Linked DNA regions of Homo sapiens: regions 2 and 3 are each linked to region 1. The links come from fine-mapping of genetic effects on gene expression. A gene starts in region 1. Each other region holds a variant in brackets. All regions are shown on one strand. Distances are between the middles of the regions. Region 1 holds the start of HYAL3 (hyaluronidase 3). Region 2 overlaps SLC38A3 (solute carrier family 38 member 3). Region 3 overlaps GNAI2 (G protein subunit alpha i2).

Region 1 (6,152 bases):
GTGGAGGCAGTAGCCCAGGACCAGTTCCAGGGAGCTGCACGGGCCTGGATGGCAGGCACCCTCCAGCTGGGGCGGGCACTGCGTCCTCGCGGCCTCTGGGGCTTCTATGGCTTCCCTGACTGCTACAACTATGACTTTCTAAGCCCCAACTACACCGGCCAGTGCCCATCAGGCATCCGTGCCCAAAATGACCAGCTAGGGTGGCTGTGGGGCCAGAGCCGTGCCCTCTATCCCAGCATCTACATGCCCGCAGTGCTGGAGGGCACAGGGAAGTCACAGATGTATGTGCAACACCGTGTGGCCGAGGCATTCCGTGTGGCTGTGGCTGCTGGTGACCCCAATCTGCCGGTGCTGCCCTATGTCCAGATCTTCTATGACACGACAAACCACTTTCTGCCCCTGGTGAGTCTTCTGTAACCTGCCCACCTTGTCAACCTGCCTTGTCAGATATTAGGTCCAGCCTTGGGGTACTTTAGCTTTGGGACATTTTCTTCGTTTTTTTTTTTTTGAGACAGAGTCTCACTCTGTCACCCAGGCTGGAGTGCAGTGGCACGATCTTGGCTCACTGCAAGCTCTGCCTCCCGGGTTCATGCCATTCTCCTGCCTCAGCCTCCGAGTAGCTGGGATACAGGCGCCCGCCACCACACCCAGCTAATTTTTTGTATTTTTTAGTAGAGTCAGGGTTTCACTGTGTTAGCCAGGATGGTCTCAATCTCCTGACCTCGTGATCCATCCGCCTCGGCCTCCCAAAGTGCTGGGATTACAGGCGTGAGCCACCGCGCCCGGCCCCCAACCTTGGGACATTTTCATCCATTCATTCATCCTTTTTTTTTTTTTTTTTTTGAGACGGAGTCTTGCTCTGTCACCCAGGCTGGAGTGCAGGGGCAAGATCTCAGCTCCTGCACCCTCCACCTTCCGGATTCAAGTGATTCTCCTGCCTCAGCCTCCCAAGTAGTTGGGATTACAGGCATGCCATCAACATGTCTGGCTAATTTTTGTATTTTTAGTAGAAATGGGGTTTCACCATGTTGGCCAGGCTGGTCTCGAACTCCTGACTTCAGGTGATCCTCCCACCTCAGCCTCCCAAAGTGCTGGGATTACAGGTATGAGCCACCGCGCCTGGCGCATGGGCACATCCATTGAGTGTGCACTTGGTGCCAAGTTCTGTGCCAGGCACAGGCAATTCAACATTTATTGGAATGATGTAGTCCCTGTCTGCATGGAATTCATAGGCTAGAGGAGGAAGCAGTTTGCCTCTGGTCCCATGGCCAGAGCAGCCCCAGGTGAAGGTTATGAATTATTTGTCCCATCTAATGGTGTTCCAGCAGTCTGCCACATGGTGGGAAGGAGGCCCCACAGAGCTGTGCTGTCTCCTTCCCAGGATGAGCTGGAGCACAGCCTGGGGGAGAGTGCGGCCCAGGGGGCAGCTGGAGTGGTGCTCTGGGTGAGCTGGGAAAATACAAGAACCAAGGTGAGCTTAGGCCTGGCATGAGGGTGGGGGTGGGGGAGGGGTGGGGCCATTAAGCTGACGGGGTAGACCCTGACTTACCCTTTCTACCTGCAAAGTCCTGGCTGACCAGCAGGTGAGTGCCTCAGTGCCCTGGGTGGGTCCATACATGGCCATGGTGTCCCTGACGCTATCCTCCCTTCCCACCTAGGAATCATGTCAGGCCATCAAGGAGTATATGGACACTACACTGGGGCCCTTCATCCTGAACGTGACCAGTGGGGCCCTTCTCTGCAGTCAAGCCCTGTGCTCCGGCCATGGCCGCTGTGTCCGCCGCACCAGCCACCCCAAAGCCCTCCTCCTCCTTAACCCTGCCAGTTTCTCCATCCAGCTCACGCCTGGTGGTGGGCCCCTGAGCCTGCGGGGTGCCCTCTCACTTGAAGATCAGGCACAGATGGCTGTGGAGTTCAAATGTCGATGCTACCCTGGCTGGCAGGCACCGTGGTGTGAGCGGAAGAGCATGTGGTGATTGGCCACACACTGAGTTGCACATATTGAGAACCTAATGCACTCTGGGTCTGGCCAGGGCTTCCTCAAATACATGCACAGTCATACAAGTCATGGTCACAGTAAAGAGTACACTCAGCCACTGTCACAGGCATATTCCCTGCACACACATGCATACTTACAGACTGGAATAGTGGCATAAGGAGTTAGAACCACAGCAGACACCATTCATTCCATGTCCATATGCATCTACTTGGCAAGGTCATAGACAATTCCTCCAGAGACACTGAGCCAGTCTTTGAACTGCAGCAATCACAAAGGCTGACATTCACTGAGTGCCTACTCTTTGCCAATCCCCGTGCTAAGCGTTTTATGTGGACTTATTCATTCCTCACAATGAGGCTATGAGGAAACTGAGTCACTCACATTGAGAGTAAGCACGTTGCCCAAGGTTGCACAGCAAGAAAAGGGAGAAGTTGAGATTCAAACCCAGGCTGTCTAGCTCCGGGGGTACAGCCCTTGCACTCCTACTGAGTTTGTGGTAACCAGCCCTGCACGACCCCTGAATCTGCTGAGAGGCACCAGTCCAGCAAATAAAGCAGTCATGATTTACTTAGCTGTTTACTGAGCGCCTAAAATGTCCAGGCCCCGGTATCCAAAGGGCACAGGAAAGGCTTGTCACTCTCACCAGATCTGACGTCAGTCTAAGGGCGGCTGCTTCCCAGGGTGGGGCCCAAATTTCAAGAGGAAGCCCCACCTGATCGGACCGTTTCCAAGCTGTCCTGGGGCAGGAGGCCGGCGGGAACCGAAGCTAGACTTGTCAGAGCCTGGGGCGGGGCTGGCGGAGGCAGAGCCAGCTGGAGGCGGGGCCTGCGCCTGGCTGAAGTGACGTGCTGGGCTGGGGCAGGGCCTGGAAGAAGCCAAATCGAGGCGGGACCTAAGCTGTGACGCAAGGAGAAGGAGGAGGGGCCTGTATGGGGCCGGGTGGGGAGGAGGCGGACTCAAATGGAGATGGGGTGGGGCTCAGCAGGGGCGGAGCCAGGGTAGAGACTGAGTCGGCGCCTGGCGGGTGTTGTGACGCGCAAACCAGGGGCGGGTTCTAAGCGGCGACGCGCGGGTGCTGGGAGGCCTTAGAACGCCGTGGCGTGCCGCAGGACGCGACGGCTGCAGAACATCCGCCGCACCGCTGGGGGCCAACGTTGTCGGACCGAGGAGTCCGAGGTGGCGACTGAGTGAGATACCCAGCTGTGCGGAGCTAGGACGCGGAACATCCCAGAGGCCAGCATCAACATGTCAGTACCGCACCCTTCCCATTTGCTGCCTGTAGGTCCACCCCGCGCGTGCGGTCCCCAAGTGGCCATGCCACCCTGCACGCCCTCCCCGCGTCAGTCGTTCGTTTCCAGACCATGCCGAGCCACACCTGCCCACAGAGTCGAGCTCTCGAAGTCCTCATTCCCAAAAGCTCCACAGCCTGTGACCCACTAGGAGGGAGGGGGAAACCGAGGCCCGGGAGAGACGGAGAAGCCACTCTCTGAGGACCCCGGAGCCCCGCCCACAGTGGGTGGGGTCGGCACTGAAGGGGTTAAGGCCGCGGGGAAGCCCCGGGCTCAGCCCTAGGGGCGGATCCTGGGGCTTCCTCCCTCTAGACCAAAGGGTGCGGCTGCTGCAGAGGTGGCTGATGCAGGTGAGGGGCTTACAGCCCTGTGAATGGTGTGGGAGGTGAGGGGAGGGGGGTGCCTGTTACTGACCAGTGTTTAATTGGCCTCAAGCTCAGGAGAGGTAAGGGGAGCCAGGAGGCCCCCTCTGGAGCAGGTGAGTAGAAGGAGGGGGCTCAGCTGCCCGCCCACGACTAGAAAACCCCCAGCATAGACCTGCCGGACGGCAGGACCTTGGTTAAGATGGGAAAACAGTAGGGTTTGGGCACAGGAGGTCTGGGCCCCCAACCTGGTGACCGTTGGACACCCTGTGGATATAGGAAGGAAGCTGTGGTCCTTATCTAGGGTGCCTGCGAAACTCAAGCCAGTGGGGAACCAAGCCTGCAGAGGCAATACTGCTGTGTGACTGTGGGCCAGGCCCAGTGCTGGTGCTGCTGGGGCCCCATCTGAGGAGACAGTTGGGTCTATATCCAAAGTGTCCTGAGATGGGCAGAGTTGGGAAGGGGGCCATGGGCTCCAGGTGGGGAAGGCAGTCAAGACAGGCCAAAGCTCAGCCTGATGGGTGCATGAGTGGGGCCCCAGGATCCACTAAGGCAGTGGGCATAGCCCAGGTAGTTGAAAAGGCTGGGAGCTGGAGGAGACTCGGAACATAGGGAGAAGAAAGGGACAGGAAGACTCCCGGGCAGTTTTTCCTATGGAGGGAACCTTGGGTAGGTTTGAGCAGGGGGTATAGTGTCTGCTTTGCATCTTCTATCCCATGCCCTAGTGGTGGACTAGGAGGACTACTGGAAGACAGAAGGCCAGCAAGTAGATTGGGTCGGCTGTTTTATAGACCTGGTGGTTACAGACCCCCTGTGAGGGGAGGTCCTGAGGAGGACAAATTTGTAGCCAGAGCAGGCTGGGGCCAGGACTCCTAGGTTCTGCCCCAGCCTTAAGCAGCTCATCCATCACTCCCAGCCTCCCTCCAATGTGGGGTAGACACCTGGATCTATCTGCCCTGCTCTATAGGGGATGGGTCTCTTCCAGGTCACCTGTGCTATCAGGTGAGTGTGGGACAAAGTGCAGCCCACCACTCCCCAGTTCCAGTATGCATGGTCCCCCCTGCACTCTGTCAGCCCTTCCCTGCTCCAACCCCACCCTCCCTCCTGGCACAGCCCAGCATGGCTGTTATCTACAGGAGGAGAGCCACTGTGGTCTGAAGAGATGCTACTGCCTGGAGACTGGGGTCTTAACCTCCAGCCTGGCACTGAGCCACCTGCAACCTAGCAGCAGGTGACCTTGGCTCCCAGCCTGACTCAGCTGAACCTGGATCCTGTGCATAGGCAAGAGCTGACTCTGAGCCCTGGCCCAGCCAAGCTGACCCCTACACTAGACCCTACACACCGGATGGAGCTGATCCTGAGTACCAGCCCAGCTGAGCTGACTCTGGATCCTGCGTGCCAGCCAAAGCTGCCCCTGGATTCCACATGCCAACCAGAGATGACCTTCAATCCTGGTCCAACTGAGCTTACCCTGGATCCTGAACACCAGCCAGAGGAGACCCCAGCTCCTAGCCTGGCTGAGTTGACCCTGGAGCCTGTGCACCGCCGACCCGAGCTCCTGGATGCTTGTGCTGACCTCATCAATGATCAGTGGCCCCGCAGCCGCACCTCCCGCCTGCACTCCCTGGGCCAGTCCTCAGATGCCTTCCCCCTCTGCCTGATGCTGCTAAGCCCCCACCCCACACTTGAAGCAGCACCCGTTGTGGTGGGCCATGCCCGCCTGTCACGGGTGCTGAACCAGCCCCAGAGCCTCTTAGTGGAGACAGTGGTGGTGGCCCGGGCCCTGAGGGGCCGTGGCTTTGGCCGCCGCCTCATGGAGGGCCTGGAGGTCTTTGCTCGGGCCCGGGGCTTCCGCAAGCTGCATCTCACCACCCATGACCAGGTGCACTTCTATACCCACCTGGGCTACCAGCTGGGTGAGCCTGTGCAGGGCCTGGTCTTCACCAGCAGACGGCTGCCTGCCACCCTGCTTAATGCCTTCCCCACAGCCCCCTCTCCCCGGCCACCCAGGAAGGCCCCAAACCTGACTGCCCAAGCTGCCCCAAGGGGTCCCAAGGGACCTCCATTGCCACCACCCCCTCCCCTACCTGAGTGCCTGACCATCTCACCCCCAGTTCCATCAGGGCCCCCTTCAAAAAGCCTGCTGGAGACACAATATCAAAATGTGAGGGGGCGCCCCATATTCTGGATGGAAAAAGACATCTGAGGCCATCCAGGGCAAGGAACTGTCTTTCTGGTTCAATAGACTGCCCCGACAGTCTACAAGCCTCAGCCCACTGACCATACCTCAGCCCCTAGCCCCTGGGGGGCAGCTTTAACCTGGGCATGTTTCCTGGGTACCAGTGGGGCCAGGAGGTGGCTCTGGCTCAGAGCCGTCAGTGTGGCTGAATAAAGGCTCTCTTGGGTATGGCTGTGACAGTTTATTTGTTGATCCCCCTACCCTCACCTCTCACCTCTTCTGCAGGTCCCTTATCCCTGCAGAAGTCTCCAGATCCACCTTGG
Region 2 (10,436 bases), 79 kb after region 1:
CCCACCCACAGACGGAGTCTCACTCTGTTGCCCAGGCTGGATTGCAGTGGTGTGATCTCGGTTCACTGCAGCCTCTGCCTCTCAGGTTTAAGCAATTCTGCTTCAGCCTCCCGAGTAGCTGGGATTACAGGTGTGCGCCATCACACCTGGCTAATTTTTGTATTTTTAGTAGAGACGGGGTTTCACCATGTTGGCCAGGCTGATCTCAAACTCCTGACCTCATGATCCACCCGCCTCGGCCTCCCAAAGTGCTGGAATTACAGGCGTGAGCCACCGTGCCCGGCCAACTTTCCAGTCTTTCTTAAAAGCCACTGTTGGCTCTGCCCCTCTCACTTCACACAAGTTGTTTACACTGGCTCTTTCCAGTTCTACCTCACTTTCTCCTCTGCCCACTCCAGGCAGGCCTGTCCCTCCCTCACAAAAGTGCCCTGGTCAGGGTCCTTAGGGATCCACAGGTGTCCGAATTCAGTGGTCCATCCTCTACCCTCAACTCCTTGGCAGCATCTGACACTTACCTGGCTCCAGGTGCCCATGCTCTCCCAGTTTTCCTCTCACCTCCTGGCTACTCCCGCCCAGCTCCTTTGCTGGTTCTGCCTCATCTTCCAGGGCTCAGTGCTTACTGCCGCCCTCCTCTGTCTGAACTTAGCTTCTTCCCATCCCATGGCTTTAAACACCACTTGCTTTGCTTCCCAGATCCAAAGCTTCATCACTGGCCACTCTACTGAACTCAACGCATACACCCAGCAGTTGACTCGGCACCTGCACTTTGATGTCCAGTCAATGTTTTTTTTTTTTTTTTTTTTAGACGGAGTCTCACTCTGTCACCCAGGCTGGAGTGCAATGGTGTGGTCTCGGCTCACTGCAACCTCCGCCTCCCGGCTTCAAGCGATTCTCCTGCCTCAGCTTCCCGAGTAGCTGGGACTGCAGGCACGTGCCACACCTGGCTAATTTTTGTAGTTTTTAGTAGAGATGGGGTTTCACTATGTTGGCCAGGCTGGTCTCGAACTCCTGACCTTGTGATTCACGCGCCTCGGCCTCGCAAAGTACTGGGATTACAGGCGTGAGCCACCATGCCCTGCCGATGTCCAGTCAATGTTTTAAACTCTTCATGGACAAAACTTATCTCTCTCCCAAGCCTGCTCCTCCTCCAGCCTCCTGCAGTGGCACCTCTATCACTAGACAACCTTGGAGTCACCCTTGACTTACTTCTGCCTCTCCTCCCCTACTGGAACCATCCGGGAAGCCTGCCACCTCTACCTTTAGGACAAGCCTAGTGCCTCATCCTGCCTCTACCATCACCTGGGCTAAGACATGCAACATGATTATTTGGAATAACTACAGGAGCCCTTGTGTCAGTGTCACCCTTGCCCCCCATTCCCCACCCAGAGCCTAGTCTTAATGCAGCAGCCGGAATAATCTATTTAAAACTTAGACTTATGCCTGACACGGTGGCTCACACCTGTAATCCCAGCATTTTGGGAGGCCAAAATGGGAGAATTGCTTGAGACCAGGACTTTGAAACCAGCCTGGGAAACATGATGAGACCCTGTCTCTACAAAAAAATAGGATACAAATAAGCAGGCAGTGGTGACATGTGCTTATAGTCCCCAGCTACTCAGGAGGCTGAGGCAGGAGGGTCCCTTGAGTCTAGAAATTCAAGGCGGCAGTGAGCTGTGATCATGCCATTTGCACTCCAGCCTGGACCACAGAGCTAGACTCTGTCTCAAAAAAAAAAAAGTTCCTTTCTCAGGCCCACTCTGACCCCCGTCCCCCACCTCCCATTTTTCTTATCTTGTTGCTTTTACTCCCTGTAGTACTGAGCATCTTCTAACCACATGATAGAATTTAGTGGTTAGGTTTAATGCTGCTTTTTTGGATCTAATCCCCATCCTGGACAGTAAGTTCAAGGAAGGCCAGGGTCTTCACTTTGTTCACTGCTTTATTTGCAGGTGCTAGATGAGTGCCTGGCGTGTAGGAACTGTCAATAAATACTTGTTGAATGAATGAATGAATGAGTCAAGAGGCAAATGTGTGCTTGTGCACACAGGTGAGAAGGGTGTGGGCAAGGGCAGCTGCTGGGCAGGGAGACTGAGACCCATGCTTTTGCCCCCCTTCCTGCTCTTATTTTTCTATAATAAGCAGTCATAAGAAAAACAGTGAAAAGAAATATAGAAGACCTTTGTGCTGGACCTTCAGGCTGCTCTAACTTATCAATATTCCAAACAGAACAATTTTTCCAGAACTATTTATTTATTTATTATTATTATTATTCTTTGAGATGGAGTTTGGCTCTTGTTGCCCAGGCTGGAGTGCAATGGCTTGATCTTGGCTCACCTCAACCTCCACCTCCCGGGTTCAAGCGATTCTCCTGCCTCAGCCTCCCAAGTAGCTGGGATTACAGGCATGCGCCACCATGCCTGGCTAATTTTTTGTATTTTTAGTAGAGACGGGGTTTCTCCATGTTGGTCAGGCTGGTCTCGAACTCCTGACCTCAGGTGATCCGCCTGCCTCAGCCTCCGAAAGTGCCGGGATTACAGGTGTGAGCCACCACACCCGGCCTAGAACTATTTATTTATCTATTTGTTTGTTTATTTATTTTTTGAGACAGAGTCTTGCTCTGTTGCCCAGGCTGGAGTGCAGTAGCACAATTACAACTCACTGCAGCCTCAGTCACCCAGGCCCAAGTGATCCTCCTGCCTCAGCCTCCTGAATAGCTGGGACTACAGGCATGAGCCACCACACCCTGCTAATTTTTCAATTTTTTTTTCTTTTTTTAGAGACGAGGTTTCACCATGTTGCCCAGGTTGGTCTTGAAATCTTGAGTTCAAGTAGTCTGCCCACCTCGGCTTCCCAAAGTGCTGGGATTACAGGTGTGAGCCACCATGCCCGGCCCCAGAACAATTTTTTAAAAGGTAACAAAGGAAAAAAACTGGAAAAATTTTCAACACATACTCAAATGATTAATGATGCCTGAGGGCCTGCAGATCATGGAGGCCAAGTGTCTGGAATTTAACAGCCAGGGACAAGGGATACTCATTTTCAAACAGTCATGTGGACACTTGGCTCTTGAATCTAGTGTAGTGGTCACATTACCTGCCTCCTCCCTGCCGGAGCCTGCTGCCCATGGTCAGGCTGGAGGAGGCCTGACTGGGCAAGCAGAGCTGGCCTCTTGGGGCCAGGGCCCAGGGTCCTTCCCCACCCCATTTGTGTGTATGTGTATGCATGGGGGGTGCTACTGTTAGCACATCCCCTTGGTCTGAGGGGCCTGAAGCCAGACCTGGTGTCCTGCTGCTGCTCTGACCTGCAGCCTTCTTTGGATGGAGGGAGTATAAGAGAAAACCCCCAGGTCTGCCTGCAGGATGGACTTGCCCTTCATTGACCCCCACTGCCCAGGAGCCAAGGGTTCCAGGCAAGGTTATGGCCCCATCGAGACCTCTAGAGGGCAGCCCCTCTCATCAGAACACACTGCGCTGCATCTACCTCTAGGCCAGTGACCAGCTCTTTCCTGGGGCCACAGGGCTCCTGGGTGAGTCCCCAGCCTGGAGTCAGGCGCCTGGGCCTGATGGGAACAGGACTCAGGAAGCTCCCCTCGGCTGAGCTGGCACTGCCGTGGGCCTAGCAGCCACCGGCTTGAGGAAGTTCTTTCTTCAGGGTTTTCCCGAGCTGGCAGCTGCCTTGCAAATTCAAACTGGATCTTTCCTGCAGCCCTTTCCCCGGCGGCCTAGCCTGGTGCAGGGTCTCTCCTAATGAGGGTTTGGTGCCAAGGCCTGGGCAGCTCCATCCCACTGGATCCCAGCTGGTTCAGGCCTGCCCAAGGCAGTGGGCAGCTTCCCAGTCTCACCGGGGCCAGGACACCTGGGGCTGTCCTGCTTCCTTGCAGCCCCTGCCGTACCTTGGACTCCCACCTCTCTTTGCCATTTGGGGCCCCACACACAGGGACTACTAACCCACTTTATTCGTAGTGGATTTTACTGTTGATAAAAAGATCAGCCCAACAGGGCACAGGATTCCTGGACTTTTGTCCCCAGACTCAGGGCATTGACAGAGAGTTGACATGGCAGCCTGGGAGCTAGGGGAGGGCAGGGGGCCCTTCCTGGGGCTCCCTCAGGGCTCAGCTGCCCCCAGCTCAGACCCTCCCTGAAGCTGCTGGGGATGCACCTCACGTTGCCTCCTTCCGGAGGCCTCTCTCTGTCCCACTTCCTGGGGCCTCATTAATTCCTCCCCACCTCAACCCGTGAGAAAGCAGGTCTGTGCTGAGCCTGGCCCAGGCCCAGAGCTGGGTCTGAGTGTGCCACTGGTTAGTTTGGGAGGCAGGGGGTGGGGTGGGTGGGGGACTTGCCCTGTCCCCACCCTCATCCCAGACAAGGAGACGGGGGCCCTCCATCACCATCCATGTTCTGGCCCGTACCTCACTTTCCAGGAATCCAGGGACCATGGAGACCAAGAATAGAAAACACAGCTGGTCTTATGTATAATATTTATAAAAGAGGGCTGCCAGCCTCCCCACCCTATCCCAGTGTGGCCACTGGGGTCTTTGGCTCCCGGGGGCAGGCCACTCTGGGCCTCGGCCTGTTTCTTCTCCCAGCAGTGGAATGTGAGCTGTGGCCCAGGCTTGTGGCAGGGGGAGTCCCAGCCTCCCCAGGACTGGTGAAGGGACAGGACAGGGGTCTCTTGGGGGTCCCTACACCAGCCCCACCCTCAGCAGAACCTGCTGGCCCCAGCTATGGGGTATGGGAGGGTGTCATCCTGTGAAGGGAGATGGGAGAAGAGTATCCAAGGGCCCAGGAGTCTGAAAAGGGCCTAGGGAATAAAAGGGGGGAAAACAAGTGGGCTGGGGGAGATGAGGCCCCAGGGCGCAGACCGTGGCCTAGCAGCAGGGTCGGGGGATGGCTGCAGGCTGATCCCAGCTGTGTATGTTCCTACAGGCTGTGTCACCTCAGGAGGCAGCTGCTGGGCCCCAGTGTATGCATC[T/C]GTGCAAGGAGGGAATGAGGGGCTTGGGCGGGATCTAAGGCGACAGCCCTACCCTGCTCCCAGTTCAGGAAGCCTCTACAGCTCCAGAGCCTAGCAGGGTAGTGGCCCAAGGGCCTTGGTCCTGGCTCTTGAACAAAAACCTTCCACAGAGAGGACATGGGGCCTGGCTGAATGCCACAGTGTTAATCGCGTCTTTCTCCTCCCCCGACTGGCCACTGGATGGGAGCAGGGGCTGAAGAGTCTGGGCAGGGCTGCTAGGGTGAGTAGACAGAACAGGATGAGGGTCACCCTAGTGGTTTCCTCCATGCCGGCTGGTCCCTGAGGCCCAGTCAATGATGATGAAGCTCAAGCTCATGGTCATCAGCAAGAAGCCAAGCATAGCAAAACACAGGGCCTGTGGAATCAGAAGTCAGGGTCAGGTCCGAGGTCAGGGCAGTTCCCTTAGCCCCATACCAGCCCACCGGCCTCCAGGCCCCTCGCACCAGGATTTTGGGGGTGGATCTTGCAGGCTCCTTCTCCGTGGGCATGATTCGGAAGTAGAAGATGGCAGGGAAGATGAAGATGAGGAATGGGGCAGATGTGGCACCTGCAAAGAACAAGACATGGCCACTGCTGGCTCATATCCTCCTACTGACTAAGGTTCGGGGGTGGACTCTTCAATGAGATCAAACACTCCTTGTTGAGGGAGTTTCATGTTGAGACCACTGGAGAGCTCTGCCTGATTCTAGCCCACCAGCCTCTCCCCCTTGTTCTCCATCCATGAGGATAGAAGGCTGGTGATGTTGGTGTCAGAAGAATGTCAGCCAATGAAGCTAGCAATGAGGAAAGGCAAATCAAGAGATGGAGAGAGATGAGGGCTTAAGGGTATTGGGCTCCAGGCTGCAGCTATACTTGAAGGCTTCTCCGTTATTTGAGCCAGTGGATTCCTTTCTGCTTAATTCATTTCGAGTTGGATTTCGGACATAGAGAACGAAGAGTGCTGTCCGTGATATCCATGACACTCAGCCCCCAGGTCTGTTTGTCAGTCCTGGCAGAGTTTGTTAGTCCTCTGAGTTGGATCACCCCAAAGACATTTCAGAATTGTCTGCTCTACCAGCTGAGAGCCCCATCTGGAATGAGGCAGTGGATGGAGCATCAAACTTGGAGTCCAGTGATCCTGGGGCTGAATCAAGCCCAAGGCTCCTATTCACCAGCTGTGTGGCCCTGCTGCTCCTTTAATCACTCTGAACTTTAGTTTCCTGACATGTGAAATGTGGACAAGACCCAGTGAGATCCTTTGAGGCGGCCTCTGATCCCTGGGATCCACCCCTGTCCTCCAGCAAGGGGGACTGACTCAGTGGCTCTGAGCCCTGAAAAGGGATTAGAATAGCCTATGGACAAAAGCTCAGATGGAAGGCCAAACTGTGCACATGGCCACTGCACTTAATGTAGGGTGTAAGCTCAGGAATCTGCCAGGATTTGCAGAGTTGAAATCCTCTGGGGCAATACCCTGCTTCCACAGCAGGGCCAGACCCTCACCGATGACCCCAAAGATGCCCAGGATGTTGGGGGCAAAGATGACCAGCAGGTTGATACAAGTGAGCAGGCCAACGGCAATAAGCACATGCCGCAGCCAGCTGAACTCCTGGTTTGGAAACAGCATCTGCTGGATGGCGCGGCGCACCTGGGGGGCAGGTGAGAAGAATCATCAGCCTGTTGGCCCCATCAGCCCCTCCCGCCACTAGTCTAGCCACCTGCCCACCAGCTCACCGGGAACAGAACGATGGGCACTGTGAGCGTGACTGCTGTCAGCACGGCCACGCGCACACACAGGATCAGGACGTCAAACGGGTCCACCTTGCTGTAGGTGTGCAGCAGCTCCGACTCCACCCCGTCTGTGGCAGGCAGGGAGGGTGGTCAGTAGGTGGCCCCAGGAAGGAGGTGGGATCTGAGCTGCCTAGGGGACCCCAACACTGTGGGGATTGGCATGCAGACTCACCTCCACAGCGGCAAGGCACAGCCAGGCACCACACGCCTCGGTATGGAGGGCACCATGGCCACAACCAGCCCCTTCCCCCCAGCCTAGCCTAGGCCTCTGCCCACCGGTGCCACCGTACTGTAGAAGGTGAGGTAGCCGAAGAGGGCAGCCAGGAAGTACATGATGTACATGACAGCGATGGACAGGTTGGAGATGTGCTGCATCTTCTTCTTGGAGGGGCTGTGGGGAAGTGGGGGGGTGGGTGTTGGTGACAAGCTGGGTAACATTGGGAGACCCCCATGTGCCCCAAGCTCTCTCTGGCACCATACTTTCACCATTCAGCATCTGAGGGAGTCTCCTTCTTGCTCATAATCACCTCTCATGGCTGCCAAGGACATCTCAGATAAAGTGACTTGGCTCCTGTCACTCCCCTCTCCACATTCAGGACCACATCCATTCTCCCCAAACCAGCTCAGGGCATCCCCACCCCCACTCCCAGCCACAGACACCTACTCCTTGAGCTCAGTATAGATGGGCAGCACCTCGGGGTGGCAGACGAAGGCGAAGGCCATGATGGGGATGGTGTATGCTGTCTGGGGAAACACGGGGCTGTGTCAAGGCAGTCTGCCACTCTCATTGGGCCCCCGCCTTGCCCTGACCTGTCAGAACCTGTGAGTTGAGCGTGAAGTAGCTGGGAGTGCAGAAGGCTGAAGCCTCAGGCTCGACCTGCAGCTGCACCTTCTCCTTCACGATCTCCACGTGGCTGAAGTTGCCTGTGGTGTTGTTGAAGTTGGGGGGCAGTGGGCAGGGCACGTGGAACTTTTTGTAGATGACCTGGAGTGGGGAGGGATGAGGGTGTCAGAGACTCCCAGGCTGGACTGCCTGGGAAGTCACCATGAAGCCACATCTAGATCAGGACTGGTGGAGCTGCCTTCTGGCCCAGGCTTCCCAGAGACACCTGCCCCCTCCTGATGACAGGGAACTCCCCCAGGAGACCCGCTGCCCGCTTTCTCAGCCAACATGGAGGGTGACTCACTGCAATTAGGAAGAACACCATGCAGCTAAGAGAGAAGCCGCTGGAGTAGCCCAGGTAGCCTGCAAAGTGGAGGGAGCACTCTGAGACCTGGGGCCCCTCCCATGGTGTATGCCTCCAACATCCCCTCCAAGGCTCTGACCCTTCCACACTCACCAAGCTGCCGCATCAGTGCCAGGGGCAGAATGATGGTGACAGAGACAAGGATTACCAGGTAGTTCCCGTTCATGTACCAGTCCCTGCAGGGACATGAGTCGGGAGCCAGGGTCAGAATCCATTCAGCCTGGGATGGGGCCCCTGCCTCCCTCTGCTGGAGTTACCAATGGTGCCACTGAGTGACATCTGAAGAATGTTTGTCCACAGCTCTGAGTCTCACTTTCCCCATCTGCAAAATGGGCATGCCCAGCTGGGCGCGGTGGTTCACGCCTGTAATCCCAGCACTTTGGGAGGCTGAGGTGGGTGGATCATCAGGTCAGGAGTTCGAGACCAGCCTGACCAACATGGTGAAACCCCATCTCTACTAAAAATACAAAAAAATTAGCCGGGCATGGTGGCACACGCCTATAATCTCAGCTACTCAGGAGACTGAGGCAGGAGAATCACAAGAACCCGGGAGGCAGAGGTTGCAGTGAGCCAAGATTGTGCCACTGTACTCCAGCCTGGGCGACTGAGCGAGACTCCGTCTCACAAACAAAACAAAACAAAACAAAACAAAACAAAGGGCGTGCCTTCAGTACTGTCCTTCAGGGTGACATGAGAACTAAGGTTCCAGCCTGGCACACAGCTCATGCTCAGGACCCTCTCTATTGTAGGCACTGCTGTTGCTTTTCTCAGGATACACAGGTCTGGGCCCAGCCTTTGGATGGAGGTGGGTGGGAGGAGGAAGAGGGACCTGGTTCTAGAGGGAGGTGGTATTTTCCACGGGGGTTTCTGGCACTTGCAATAACCTGTGCTCCTTGCGGTTCCTTCTGGCATCTGGGCCTTGCCTCATCCGGCCCCCTCCTCTACCCACCAGGAATGGATACGGGGCACAGAGAAACAAGGGGATAAGGGCCAGGACCATCCTCAAAGGCAAGCCCTGAGGCCAACTCCTTGGGAAAGGCCCAGGGCCCCAGCGGCAGAATCCTGGCTCTCCCTCTTGCCGGAGCTACTCTCAGCCTCCCAGCCCCTCTGCTTGCTCGGGCTGGGCTGTCAAGAGCAGGGCCTGGCTGTGTCCCCTCTGTCCCACAAAACACGTTTGATGCCCAGTCAATGCTGGCTAAAGTGATAGGCAACTGGGACACCTGGGCTTAATATCTTGGTTGGGGGGGGCAACCCCATGGTCAGGAATAGCAGGCGCTTAGAGCTAAGCCTGAGCCTCCCACGCTCACAGGCTGGGTCCGGGGTGAGGAGAGGCCCAGCTTCCTCAGCTGCACCCTGCCCCTAGCCCCACAAGCCCCTTCTGGAGGGGGGTCTCCAAGGTGCTTCCCAAGTGAGTGTGAACTGAATGCTGGCTCTGCGGGCAACTCTCCCCACTCCACCAGCTTCTTGTCTGCTTTGTCTTGTCTCTCCCACCAGCCCAGCCTGGGCCCCCCCACCCTCACCCAGCCCCACCCCACCCCACCCCTCCTCACTGCACCGCACCCCTCCCCTCCCCTCCCCACGCCAGGGCTCACGAGGTTTTCTCCTCCAGGTTCAGGAAGGTCTGTATGACAAGTGGCAGCTCAGACTTGATGATGTACAGGTAGCTGGACATGGCTGTGGGGAGAGGGGCGGGCAGGCAGGCGCTGAGGTCAGCCCAACCAGCCAGCTTTCAGGGCTGTCCACCTCCCTACTGCCTGCCCCTGCCCACTGCTCTTACCTCCGATGTTCTGGAGCGTGATGGCCAGGGCTGCTGCCAGCTTTCCTGGGGTCCCAAAGGCACGGTAGCCCAGCTGCTCATAGGCACGGATGCCTGCAGGAGCAGGGTCAAGAAGTCAGGAGCTTGTCCCAGTTTACCCACCAGCTCCCGCCCATTCCAGGCTGGTGTGAGGCTCACCCACGACCCCTGAGGACTTGAGTAGCAGGTGGATGGAGTAGCTGGAGAGCAAGGCGACAGCTGTCAACAGGAACCTGGGGACACATGGGAAGATGGAAGAAAAAGAGGCCACTGGGGGGCTACCGTGGCTGGCAGAGGGTGAGGGGCTCTGGGAGGCCTGGGGGTGGAGGGTCTGTGACCTGGGTGTCTGGACTCCCAACAGGTATGGATGCCAGCTCAGCAGGCCCCAGGGGTGATGAACACCACCCCCTTTGATCCAGGGTGCGACACACCCCAGAAGGGGCCCTCTGGGTCAAGAGTGTCCCTGTGACTGCCCTCTGAGCACGTCCTCCTCTTGAGTCCTTGAAACAAACATGTTTTCCATTCTGGCTTCAGGGCAGAGCCCCCAGCCAAAGGACACGTGTGCCCACACAAGGCCTGGCCGTGGGGCTTGGCCATCACGTGTAAGGTGCCAAAAG
Region 3 (10,436 bases), 53 kb after region 1:
AGACACCTGTAGCCCAGGAGGCAGAACTAACCTTCCCACCAGCTGCACCGTGAGATGGAGGCAGCTGGGCCTGGTGGGCAGTTGAGCTACCAGGAATGCAGCTGGCAGGGCCACAGTGGTCAAGGTAACCTAGAGCACCTGTGCCCCATGGCAGACTCTCTGCAGGCCTTTGCCTCCCACAAGCTCTGCTGCCCACCATGGCTCCCCACTGTCCTGGGGGGTCTTGGCTGGAGACTTGGCCAGCCATGAAGGAGCCACCCTGTTCTCACATACATAGGCTCGCCAACCTGTGCAGCTGGTGCATGCCAATATGGTGCCCTGGGCAGAGCTGGCAGGAAGATGCCCTGCATACTCCATCCAACAGGGTAGCAGCCCTTCTTCTCCCCACACTGAGCCTTAGCAACCAGGGGCCTAAGCAGGAGCACAGCGTCACACTTCAGCTTTCTGGACATGGCCCAATGCCCCGCCCTCTGCTCACTGCGCTCAGGTCTGCCCTGAGCAGATGGAGGCTAGAAGGCTAGAATCTAGGAGACCTACAGTGTAACACACACGCGTACTGACTCATGAATCTGGGAGACCTGCGGCGTATCTCACACACCCACACCCACACACGCCCATACTGACTCAAGCTTTTCCCTGGCCTGGTACAGCCCTGGCCCATATTTCTCTTTAGCTGGTACTGAGATTTGCTGCATTCTCTCCTGTATTAGTCACAGCAGATACTGTTTCTGTTCCCATTCTACAGATGAGGACATTGAGGCTCAGAAAAATAAAGTATTGATCTAAGATCATGTAGCCAGGACTCAGAAGGGCAAGAGGGTGGAGGGAACCCATGATGCCTGGTCCACCCTGCCATTCTCAAAATGTGGCTGAGACCCTGCGGGACAATGCCTTGGGGAGGTGTTTAAAAAAGCAGATTCCGCCGGGAGTGGTGGCTCATGCCTGTAATCCCAGCACTTTGGGAGGCTGAGGCAGGTGGATCACCTGAGGTCAGGAGTTCGAGACCAGCCTGGCCAACATGTTGAAACCCCATCTCTTCTAAAAATAACAAAAACTAGCCAGGCGTGGTGGCAGGTGCCTGTAATCCCAGCGGCTCGGGAGGCTGAGGCAGAAGAATCGCTTGAACCTGGGAGGTGGAGGTTGCAGTGAGCCGAGATTGTGCCATTGCGCTCCAGCCTGGGCAACAAGAGCGAAACTTGGTCTAAAAAAAAAAAAAAAAAGCAGACTCCCAGGTCCCATCCCAGACAACAGAGCCAGATCTTGAGGAGTGCAGCCCAGGAGCCTGTATTACCCAGGGAGTCTGTGTAAAGAAGGACCAGGGGGGCCACCCAACTCCCTGGCTGGGGGCCAGAGGGAGTGGAGGCAGGGCCTCACCTTGACCTTGCTCCCTTGCTGCTGGCTTGTCTTGAGCTCCAGGTTGAATGGCCCCCAGCTGGGCCCTGCTGTCCTTCCCAGACCCTGTGCTCCTGCTCCATCACTGCCAGTCACACCTGCAGCTGCCAGGCACTACCTCTAGCTATCTCCAGGGCCCTGCTCATGCTGTTCTCTTTGCCGGGAATACGTGCCCCATGCCCCATTCACAGTGTCCCAATTCTGATCACTGTGGCACGTTTGTTCCTCTGTGCAGCTTAGCTGGGTGGGTAGTAAGGTCTGTGCAGAGGTCAAACTTGGGTACTCTGGCCAAGCTCAACAGCATCCCTTGGGGCTGGTCAAAACAACCTCAGAGGATGAAGGTGCTAACACACAAACGAACACAAGCAGTAACAATAACATCGGCAATATCGACAGCAAAGCTATATGAAAACAGCGCCCACCATGTGCCAGATGCTGCTCTACATCAATGACACCCACCAACTGCCATCTCCACAGCAATCCTGGGAGGTAGGTTCCATTCTCACCCCAATCTAACCAGTGAAGGAACTGAGGTCCAGGGAGGCTGAGGTCACAGGGTTAGAGTCCCCTCTGCAGGGAGCACACTTGCCCACCGTGCAGTCCCTCCTAGAGCTGTCCTAAGTACCTGGTACTGCAGCGGAGCCACACAGTCCACCTGGCACTGGGTTCACTCCCTAGCTCCCCAGGCAGACTCTGGGCCATGTCTGCAGTGCTCAACAAGCGGCAGCAGGCATTGGGACATGGTGGCAGGCCTTGCCAAGGCCCCTGCCCACCTTCAGCCCCCTACGCCAGAGACCACCCTGAGGGGAAAGGCCTGAGCCCTCCTCACAAATGCCATCAGGCGCCTGCAATCACTGAGCTTCTGACTGTCCCAGGCCTGCTTTCCAGGATGAGGGGAGGGGATCTGGGGAGATGGGGAGTGACAGCTAGTTGGGTATGAAGTTTATTTTTGAGGGTGGTGATTATGTTCTGGAATTAGATAGCAGTGATGGTTGCACAATCTTGTGGACATACAAATGTGCAGGCCCTGGGAAGGCTGGGGCGCTGTGGCTGGGGCAGCAATCCCCTCTATTGCTTTAGCCCCTGGGCACTACAGGGGCCGGGCCCAGTATCTTCACTGGGGTGTGTACCGGGATATATACCAGCACCACTCCCTCCCCATTGGGCTGTGCATGGCAAAGGGGCAGCCAGGATCTGCATACCAACACTCCTCCACCTGCCAATGAGGACATGGGGAAAGGTCCCAGGAAAGCCTCACAGCGATGCCTGAACACTTAAGGCCCATCCCCCTGGGGCTCAAAGCACCCACTGGGGCAGGGAGGGCAGCAGTGGCTACCTGACTGTCTTCCCCACTGGCTCCTCCAGAGCAGGAGGAAGAACCAGGAGCCAGTCACAGCCAGGATGGGGGGAACTGCAGGAGCAGAGGCCAAGGATGCGAAGTCATGGGTCCCCATGCAGTCCCGAGCCAGGCGAGCTCAGACTCAGCAGGGAAGCTACCCAGGGCATGGGGGACCTGAGGTCTAGGGTGAAAGCTTCCCCATCTTGTGTGACTTCGGGACTCCTGCCCACTTGAGGCATCAGTTTCCCTATCTGGCCACTGAGAGTGAAGAGGGGGTCTGGCCTTTTGCCCACTCTTAGTAGGTGATGTGGGCCGCTTCGTGACCCTGCCCAGGGACGAGGGTGCAAACTTGCTTTGCATCTGATTTTCCTAGCAGCAGCTAGACCTGGTAGACATGAGGTAGGCAGCACAGAGCCAGTCACACTAGGAGCCAGGATATCTGCTCCCTGCCCCAGCCAGGGAGGGCCCACTTCCCTGTCCCCTTCAAGTTTCATTTTCCCCTCCTAAGGCCTCTTAAATGTTAAGAGAACATTCTCTATCCCAAGCAGGGGTCACTGAAAAAAGAGTTCCACTTGACAGGTAAGCAAATCAAGGTCATGGAGCCCCTATCCCTAGACTCAGGCTGGTCTCTTTGTCTTTCCAGCAGCTGTGACTCAGGCGGGAAGTAGTGAGTGGCAGGACAAGGGTGTGGTGCTGGCAGCCAGGCAGGAAGCAGGGGGAACAACGGGACAGAGGCAGGGGCACAGCCCAGGAGCAGCTCCAGCAGAGAAGGGGGACAGGAGCAGAGGTGGGTGGAGCCCCAGGATGGCATCTGGGTGGAATGGGTGGGGTGAAGAGCTCTCGGGCAGCCCACAGGCTAAGTGCCCTGGCAGCTGTGGGGTAGTAGCTTCACTCTCCCCATCTCTGGCTGGGTCCTCTTTCCATCAGGACCTGAGGGATGCCCCCTACCAGATAAGCTGGCAAGAGGCTTATCTGTGAGTTTTGCACACACCCAGCTCCCCTCGCACCTGCCTCTCAGAGGGGTGGCTGAGTCCAGATTTTTTTTTTGAAACACAGTCTCGCTCTGTTGCTCAGGCTGGAGTGCAATAGCATGATCTTGGCTCACTGCAACCTTTGCCTCCCGGTTCAACCTCTGCCTCCCGGTTCAAGCAATTCTCCTGCCTCAGCCTCCCCAGTAGCTGGGACTACAGGCATGTGCCACCACGCCCGGCTAATTTTTGTATTTTTAGTAGAGACAGGGTTTCACCATGTTGGCCAGGCTGGTCTCGAACTCCTGACCTCAAGTGATCCACCTGCTTTGGCCTCCCAAAGTGCTGGGATTACAGGCGTGAGCCACCGCGTCCAGCCTGAGTCCAGATTTCTGCAAAGATGCTGGGTAGGGGAACTGAGGCAATAGAAGGTGGCATGAATCAGCCCCTCCTGCCCGCAGAGGGCCCCACCAAGTGCTCTGTCCCCAGCTGGGTAAGACCAGAGAGGCCTGCAGAGGTTCCCTGGGGTGGCCTTGGCATTCCCACTGAGTCACACCTCTTCCCACCAAGGAAGAAACCTCTGCAGCCTTTGCCCTGTGGCGCAGTTAGGGCCCACAGCAGGTAGGCAGTAATCATAGTGATGTGCTGGGTGGTGGCAGCTGCTCTGCACTAGAACATCTGCTTCCACTTTGGGAGTGCTGAGCCCCAGAGGAGGGAACCGATGAGAGAAGGGAGACAGTACCACTCCACCTGCGTGAACAAGACCAGCAGGGCCCCTGCAGCAGGAGAGACAGGCCCACAGGTCTTGTCACTTGATGCTTAGTCCAGGCCCCAGCATTCAAGTCACAGCATCTGTTCATCTTGGACCCTCTAACTCCTTAATAGGCTTTGATCTGCTGGGAGGCTGGGACTTGCTACTATCCTTTCTGGCTTCAGTTTCCCCTGGGCAGAGCTGTCAAGCCTCAAGCAGCCAGCCAGCCTGCCTCCCATTTTCAGATCCTCTCCCAGAAGGAGGTCCAGACTTGCCACAGCCCTGATGTCCACTCTGATCCTTCCTGAGATCCTCAAGAGCTTCAGCTCCTTTCCTGCCCTTTCTCTGGCACCTCATCTGTGAAATGGGACAACGCTGTCTCCTTCTGAGAGATGGGTAAGGATTAAATGCAAAGCTCTTCTCACAGTGTGGGGCACATGTGAGCATTCAGGTAAAAGTTATCACTATTTATCTACCCTTTGAAAGAGTACAGATTTCCCCAAACCTCTCATTTCCTGCAACCTGCAGAGAAGACTGCTGTGGTCATCTCATTTGAAGGAAAGCTTCTGAAGATTTTCAGATAAAGAGCAGATGAAGAGCAATGGACAGCGGCTAACAGGCTGATTCAGAGCTGTGGTGGTTCCCTGCTGGGACTCAGCATAACCTGGGACAGGAGTCAGAGCTACTGGCTCCTCTGTTGGCTTTCCGCTGTGTCGTCACTTCCCTTCAGTATAACCCGGCACTCCTACACAGCTGGGGCCTCCTTCCTGCCCAGGAGCCTCACTGCTGACATTGCTCACTGGCTGCACACACCCAGAAAGCCAGGCACACCTCCCTGGAGAGAACCCCCATACTGGTGGGCTCCGTGGGAACACGTGGGGCCAGGAAGAGCAGCCAGCTGACGTGGCAGGCCCGAGGGCAGAGATTCTCAGAAGCAGCAGCGGCTGGGACCACAGGGTAGACTTGGGCAGCGGCCCAGCTCAAACCCACAACACCAGGCCCGCCCACACTGCCACAACTCCCCAGCCTATCCCAGTGGGATATGGTGGGGCAGGTGGGGGTAGCCCTGAGCCCACCACAAAGGCAGCCCGGACACCACCTCCTTCTCTTATCCCAGGAAGGTGCCACATCTCCAGCTCAGCCTGTGGTTCTCAGATCCCGTGCACCCCCACGTCCCCTGCAGTCCTAGGGACCCATGCCCCGCCACCACCAGGGGGCGCCCGGCAGCCGGAGACACTGTGGAAGGAAGTGGGGGCTGGGCAGCACTGGGGAGCGTTTTGTTTCAGAAAAGCAGCCTCAGCCAGGGGCGACTGGGGAAGGTGTCCCACCCACCAGCCCGTCCCTGGGAAGCCCCCAGCCTGCAGAGACTCGGCACACACAGAAACCATGGCAACGGGAGGGAGGGGCAGAGACCCCGCCAGACAAAGGCCCTCTGAGCCCCGCCCCTGGCGTCTCTTCCTTCCTCCAGGTGCTGCTCCCCGGCCCCCCTCATTCCCTCCGAGAAGGCTCAGCACGGGTCCGGCACTGGGAGGCAGGGACTCGAGGTCTTGAAAGGGACCGGCAACACTCCCACCC[A/G]TGTGTGTGGCATGGCCCTATAACGGATGCCTGAACAGACCAACAGACTCCACACCTCCCTCCCGCCAGTCTCTGGCACTCGGCTGCCTCCAGCGGCTTCCAGGGGTTCACAGTGCCCAAAGGGGAGCACTACCAAGCAGGGCCTGGCTTCCTACTGCCAAGTCAGAGATCTCTGTGTTAGGGAAACTGAGGCCTCAGGTCCTGCCCACACATGGGAAAGTCTTTCTGGGGCAAGGTGTGTCTCCCTCAGTGGGGCCCTTTCCACTGCACAGAGGGAAACTCAGGCACCGGGTGAGGAAGGCTGGCCTGATATAAAGGAGGCCCCAGACCTGTTCATCGCTGGCGCCTCAGGCCCCAGGTACCGCCTGTGCAGGAGCCAGGAGGTGCTGGACAAGACGCGGATCACGCGGAGCTGGGCCATTTGGCACCGTCTCCCTGGAGGCCTCTTCATTTCAGGCATCCCTCCGCTGTTCCCAAGGCACCTGAATGACCTCTTTTCCCTTCTGATTCATGGCGGTGGACTCTGGGAAAGATAACGGGAGCCTAGGCCTCATCTATGAAATGTACCCCTTGAGGGAGGGTGCCAAACCCAAGGCCTGCCCTGAGTAGCCTCTTCAAAGTCACCCCAAACTGCCTCAGGGCCCAACCCAAGCCAGCAGCTGTCCTTGTGTCCACAGGCCAGGAGACCATGCTAAGAATCACGGCACTGGCGGGGCGGGGTGGCTCACGCCTGTATTCCCAGCACTTTGGGAGGCTGAGGTGGGCGGATCACCTGAGGTCAGGAGTTCGAGACCAGCCTGACCAACATGGAGAAACCCTGTCTCTACTAAAAATACAAAATTAGCCGGGCATGGTGGCACATGCCTGTAATCCCAGCTACTCTGGAGGCTGAGGCAGGAGAATCACTTAAACCTGGGAGGCGGAGGTTGTGGTGAGCCGAGATTGCATCACTGCACTCTAGCCTGGGCAACAAGAGCGAAACTCAGTCTCAGAAAAAAAAAAAAAAAATCACAGCATCACAGATTCTAGTGCTGGATACAGAGAGGGAAGAGGACAGTCTGAGGTCTCATGGTGAGGAACTGGACCCTCTGGGACCCACAGTCTTGGGTGGCCATGAGGATGCACGGGTCTCTGCTCTGTGCATGGCTTCATGGCCCAGAGAGGCTTGGACGCTTCTGCTCTGGCTCTCCTAAGCCTTCCTCAGCCCCCTCAGTCCCTTACGGCCTGGCCTGGCAACACAGCAGAACCCCTAGGAACCCCTACAAGAGAGGGCAAGGCCCCACTAGGCCACAGCACTGAGATTCGGAGGCCAAGGAGCAAGAGGAACCAGCCTCAACAACTATCATGCAGTCATCAGCCAACACCATGGCCACATTCTACCACCACACAGTACCGTACGTGCACCCAGCACTGAGCCTGTGCTCACAGTGCAGCCCTAAGGAACATGCTTTCATTTCACTCCTCTGGACAATTCCCAGTCTCAGAGGCCCTCACCATGGACTTCAATAGCTTCTGAGCCTTCCCCAGGCTTGGTCTCAGTCTAAGACTGGGGCTTATGGGAGAACAAGCATAATATTAGGGAAAGAATGAAGTCCTAAATTGCCAGCTATAACTTGAGCATCACTGTGAGAGGATACGGACTAGGAGAAAAAGTGGGAAGTCAAAAGGTGCAGCTGCAGCCGGGCGCAGTGGCTCACACCTGTAATCCCAGCACTCTGGGAGGCCGAGGCAGGCGAATCACTTGAGGTCAGGAGTTCGAGACCAGCCTGACCAACATGGTGAAACCCCGTCTCTATTAAAAATACAAAAATTAGTTGGGCGTGGTGGCACGTACCTGTAGTCACAGCTACTCAGGAGGCTGAGGCAGGAGAATCGCTTGAACCCAGGAGGCGGAGGTTGCAGTGAGCCGAGATCATGCCACTGCACTCCAGCCTGGGTGACAGAGTGAGACTCCATCTCAAAAAAAAAAAAAAAAAAAAAGGAGTGGAGGGGGTCCCCCATGACCACATGGCTGTAGAAAGCTTCATACACAGAGTCTTGGGTCCCACCTTCCAGGACAGACAGCTCCCTTTCCGCCTCCTAAAAGAAGAATTGAGGCCCGAAAGCCAGGGCCCATAGGCACAGGCAGAACACACACGCACCCACACCGTCTGCCTGCTGTCCTGCCTGATCCGTTACTTCCAGCCAGCACAGACTCCCAAAGGGCCATGGCAGTTGGAGGCAGGCGCTTAATCACTACATGGGTCATGTCCTGACATCTCTGTTCCCTGTTTAAGTGCATAAAGTCCCTGAGCTTCAGTTTGTCCATCAGTGAAATGGGTGTAATATCAGTCCCAGCCTCACAGGATTAAATATGACAAGATAATGAAGAATTCAGCTCCACACAACAGTCAAGGCTCAATCAGAGACAGCTGTGGTTATCACCTGAGGGGAAACAGGCCCAGTGAATGCAGCCCTAGACCCAGTGAGTGGGTGCTGGTAGGGGAGAATCCTTAGGCTGAGGCCAGGGATCCTTTGTCCGCCCCCCAGCAGGGGAAACCCAGAGTGAGCTCATCTCGGGGCTGTTGCTGCATTTCCAGGCATTCATCTCAGCCTGTGGCTGGCCTTCCGGCTTTGGAGAGCAATGGCCGCTCGGGAATCTAAGAGCAGCCCTCTGCCTTCCTGCTAGCCCTCCCGCCAGCGTCCTTCTCCCAGCCACAACTTCCTGTGGCCAAAGAAGGGGCCTGGAATCCTTCTCGAAGGCACCACCTTCTCTGGGATCTTGGGCCCGATGGTTGCTGGGGTGGGACAAGGTACAGAGCTACCTGGACTGGCTCCAACTCAGTGACCGCCACTAGAATGGCCCACAGGAGTGCAAAGATAAGCCTGGGCAGGTGTTCACCTCCTAGACCCTTCCAGTTGGCAAAGCCCTGGGGGGCCCTTGGGCTCTCACCCCCACCCTAGCACCAGGCAGCCCTCTGGCCTCTTCCTCTTTTGGGCTCCTCCTCCCCCAGCTGCTTCCTCCTTTTCCTCTGGTGTGGACACCACTTCCCCGAGAGGCCCAGCCCTGCCCTGCCATGTCGTGCAGACTTCATTACCTCCTCCTCCCGCCGGGGGCACACACAGTAGGTGCTGCCATCACCTCCTTTGCATATCCTGAGGCTGTCAGCAGCCTTGGAGCCCCCAGATTCCTCCAAGCCATAAGGATATCTTCTCCCCAACAAGGCTGAGATGACCCCACCTTTAGGCCTTTGCTCAGACTGGTGTGGTGCTGCCTTTCAAGCCTTGTAAATGTGCACAGAGGCCGGCACAGAAGAACCAGCCCAGCAAATGTTTGGTTATTCCAGAAAGATTCTTCCTCCCCAGCCACCAAGAGCAGCCACAGCCCCAAGAAGTAACATCAGGGTGAGGGTGGGGTTGGGGTTTAGTAAGAACGAGAGCTTCAAGCTAGAAGGGCTGGGTGGGGCTGGGCAGACGGGGTTCCACCCTGCACCTGTAGCTGAGGGAAGGGCTGCCTGAGAGCATCAGGTACCAGGGACACCATCAAAGGGCCCAATCCTTTGCCTTCCCCAAAGCACCTTGCAGAGCACTCTTAGGCAGGGTGTATCAGCAGTGGCCTGGCCAGAACCTGCTGACCCCTTCCCCTCCTCGCTCAACTCCTAGGCTGGGATTCCTGGCCTGAGATGCTGGGAAGATGAGACTACTCCCTGGCCTGTACCTTGCCCCCATCTGCCCGGTCCTGCCTCCCCCCACAGCACAACGGGATGTAGGGGAGGCAGCACTCAGGCTCTGGGGTGACAGTCTCCTCCTCTGCTGTGGGTGGGGTGGGGGGAGTCCCTGGTTCCTCAGTGGCTAAGAGCTTGGGTGGACAAAGCTTCCTCCATCCTGTTCCCGCCAAGTGAATGGGTGGCTTTTAGAGACAGACTGAGAGAGTCACAGCCAGGGACCAAGAACTAAGATCAACGGCAGAGTATACAGGACCTGTGTGTCTGCCTGTGGCCCAAGTAGCCCCAAGTGCACCTACTGCCCCACCCCCTGCAGTGCTGGAGGCCTAGGGACCTTGCTGGGACCTGACCACACCCCACCCTCAGCACTACCTGCTGCCACTTGCCAGGCAAACTGATGTTCAAGGGCCTGGGACATCAGTGATGGCACTCAGTGACCCTACCTCTCAGGCCACCCAGGGCCAACCGCTGACAAGCTGCCCAGGGCCAAAGGGGTCCCGGACCATCCCCAGGCCCCATCCAGCAGCCTAGGCTCTGACACATAGTGGGTGGTGTGATGCTGCCTCAGGGCTTCTGACATGGAAGCCTGTGTCCCGCAACTGGTTTGACTTCCACCTCCTGCCACAGCAGCGCGGCTCATTCTCTCTGTCCTCACACCTGCTCTGCCCTCTGTCTGGGGTTCCTCTCCCCAACCCGCCTGGGATGCC

Evidence for each region. PIP is the estimated chance that this variant, and not a neighbour inherited with it, causes the effect.
Region 2: its variant is the best candidate, but not a certain one, in a credible set for the expression of HYAL3 in whole blood (TOPMed, PIP 0.50).
Region 3: its variant is the best candidate, but not a certain one, in a credible set for the expression of HYAL3 in fetal neocortex (Walker 2019, PIP 0.53).

Annotation. Positions count from the first base shown.
Region 1 is chr3:50,296,307-50,302,458 of GRCh38, reverse strand. It overlaps HYAL3 (hyaluronidase 3), which reads left to right and starts at 3,054. Exons shown (of 4, transcript NM_003549.4): 1 at 3,054-3,246. NAA80 (N-alpha-acetyltransferase 80, NatH catalytic subunit) reads left to right here and starts at 3,054. Exons shown (of 2, transcript NM_001200016.2): 1 at 3,054-3,246; 2 at 4,787-6,057. The coding sequence starts at 4,996. The coding sequence ends at 5,856. HYAL1 (hyaluronidase 1) reads left to right here. Exons shown (of 4, transcript NM_033159.4): 2 at 1-402; 3 at 1,382-1,471; 4 at 1,659-2,566. The coding sequence ends at 1,976. RefSeq lists an enhancer at 3,321-3,460.
Region 2 is chr3:50,215,002-50,225,437 of GRCh38, reverse strand. It overlaps SLC38A3 (solute carrier family 38 member 3), which reads right to left. Exons shown (of 16, transcript NM_006841.6): 5 at 9,979-10,052; 6 at 9,802-9,894; 7 at 9,617-9,698; 8 at 8,118-8,200; 9 at 7,965-8,023; 10 at 7,598-7,762; 11 at 7,442-7,521; 12 at 7,068-7,168; 13 at 6,721-6,845; 14 at 6,490-6,634; 15 at 5,454-5,557; 16 at 3,952-5,365. The coding sequence ends at 5,261. Among named protein-coding and RNA genes, the nearest start is that of MIR5787, 7.2 kb to the left of the region's middle. RefSeq lists enhancers at 4,395-4,895, 4,896-5,396, 5,766-5,935. The variant T/C (reference allele first, on the strand shown) is at 4,972.
Region 3 is chr3:50,241,595-50,252,030 of GRCh38, reverse strand. All of the region lies in intron 1 of GNAI2 (G protein subunit alpha i2), which reads right to left. Among named protein-coding and RNA genes, the nearest start is that of GNAI2, 11 kb to the right of the region's middle. RefSeq lists enhancers at 4,961-5,676, 5,845-5,944, 5,677-6,392, 8,012-8,621, 8,554-8,913 and 3 more. The variant A/G (reference allele first, on the strand shown) is at 6,026.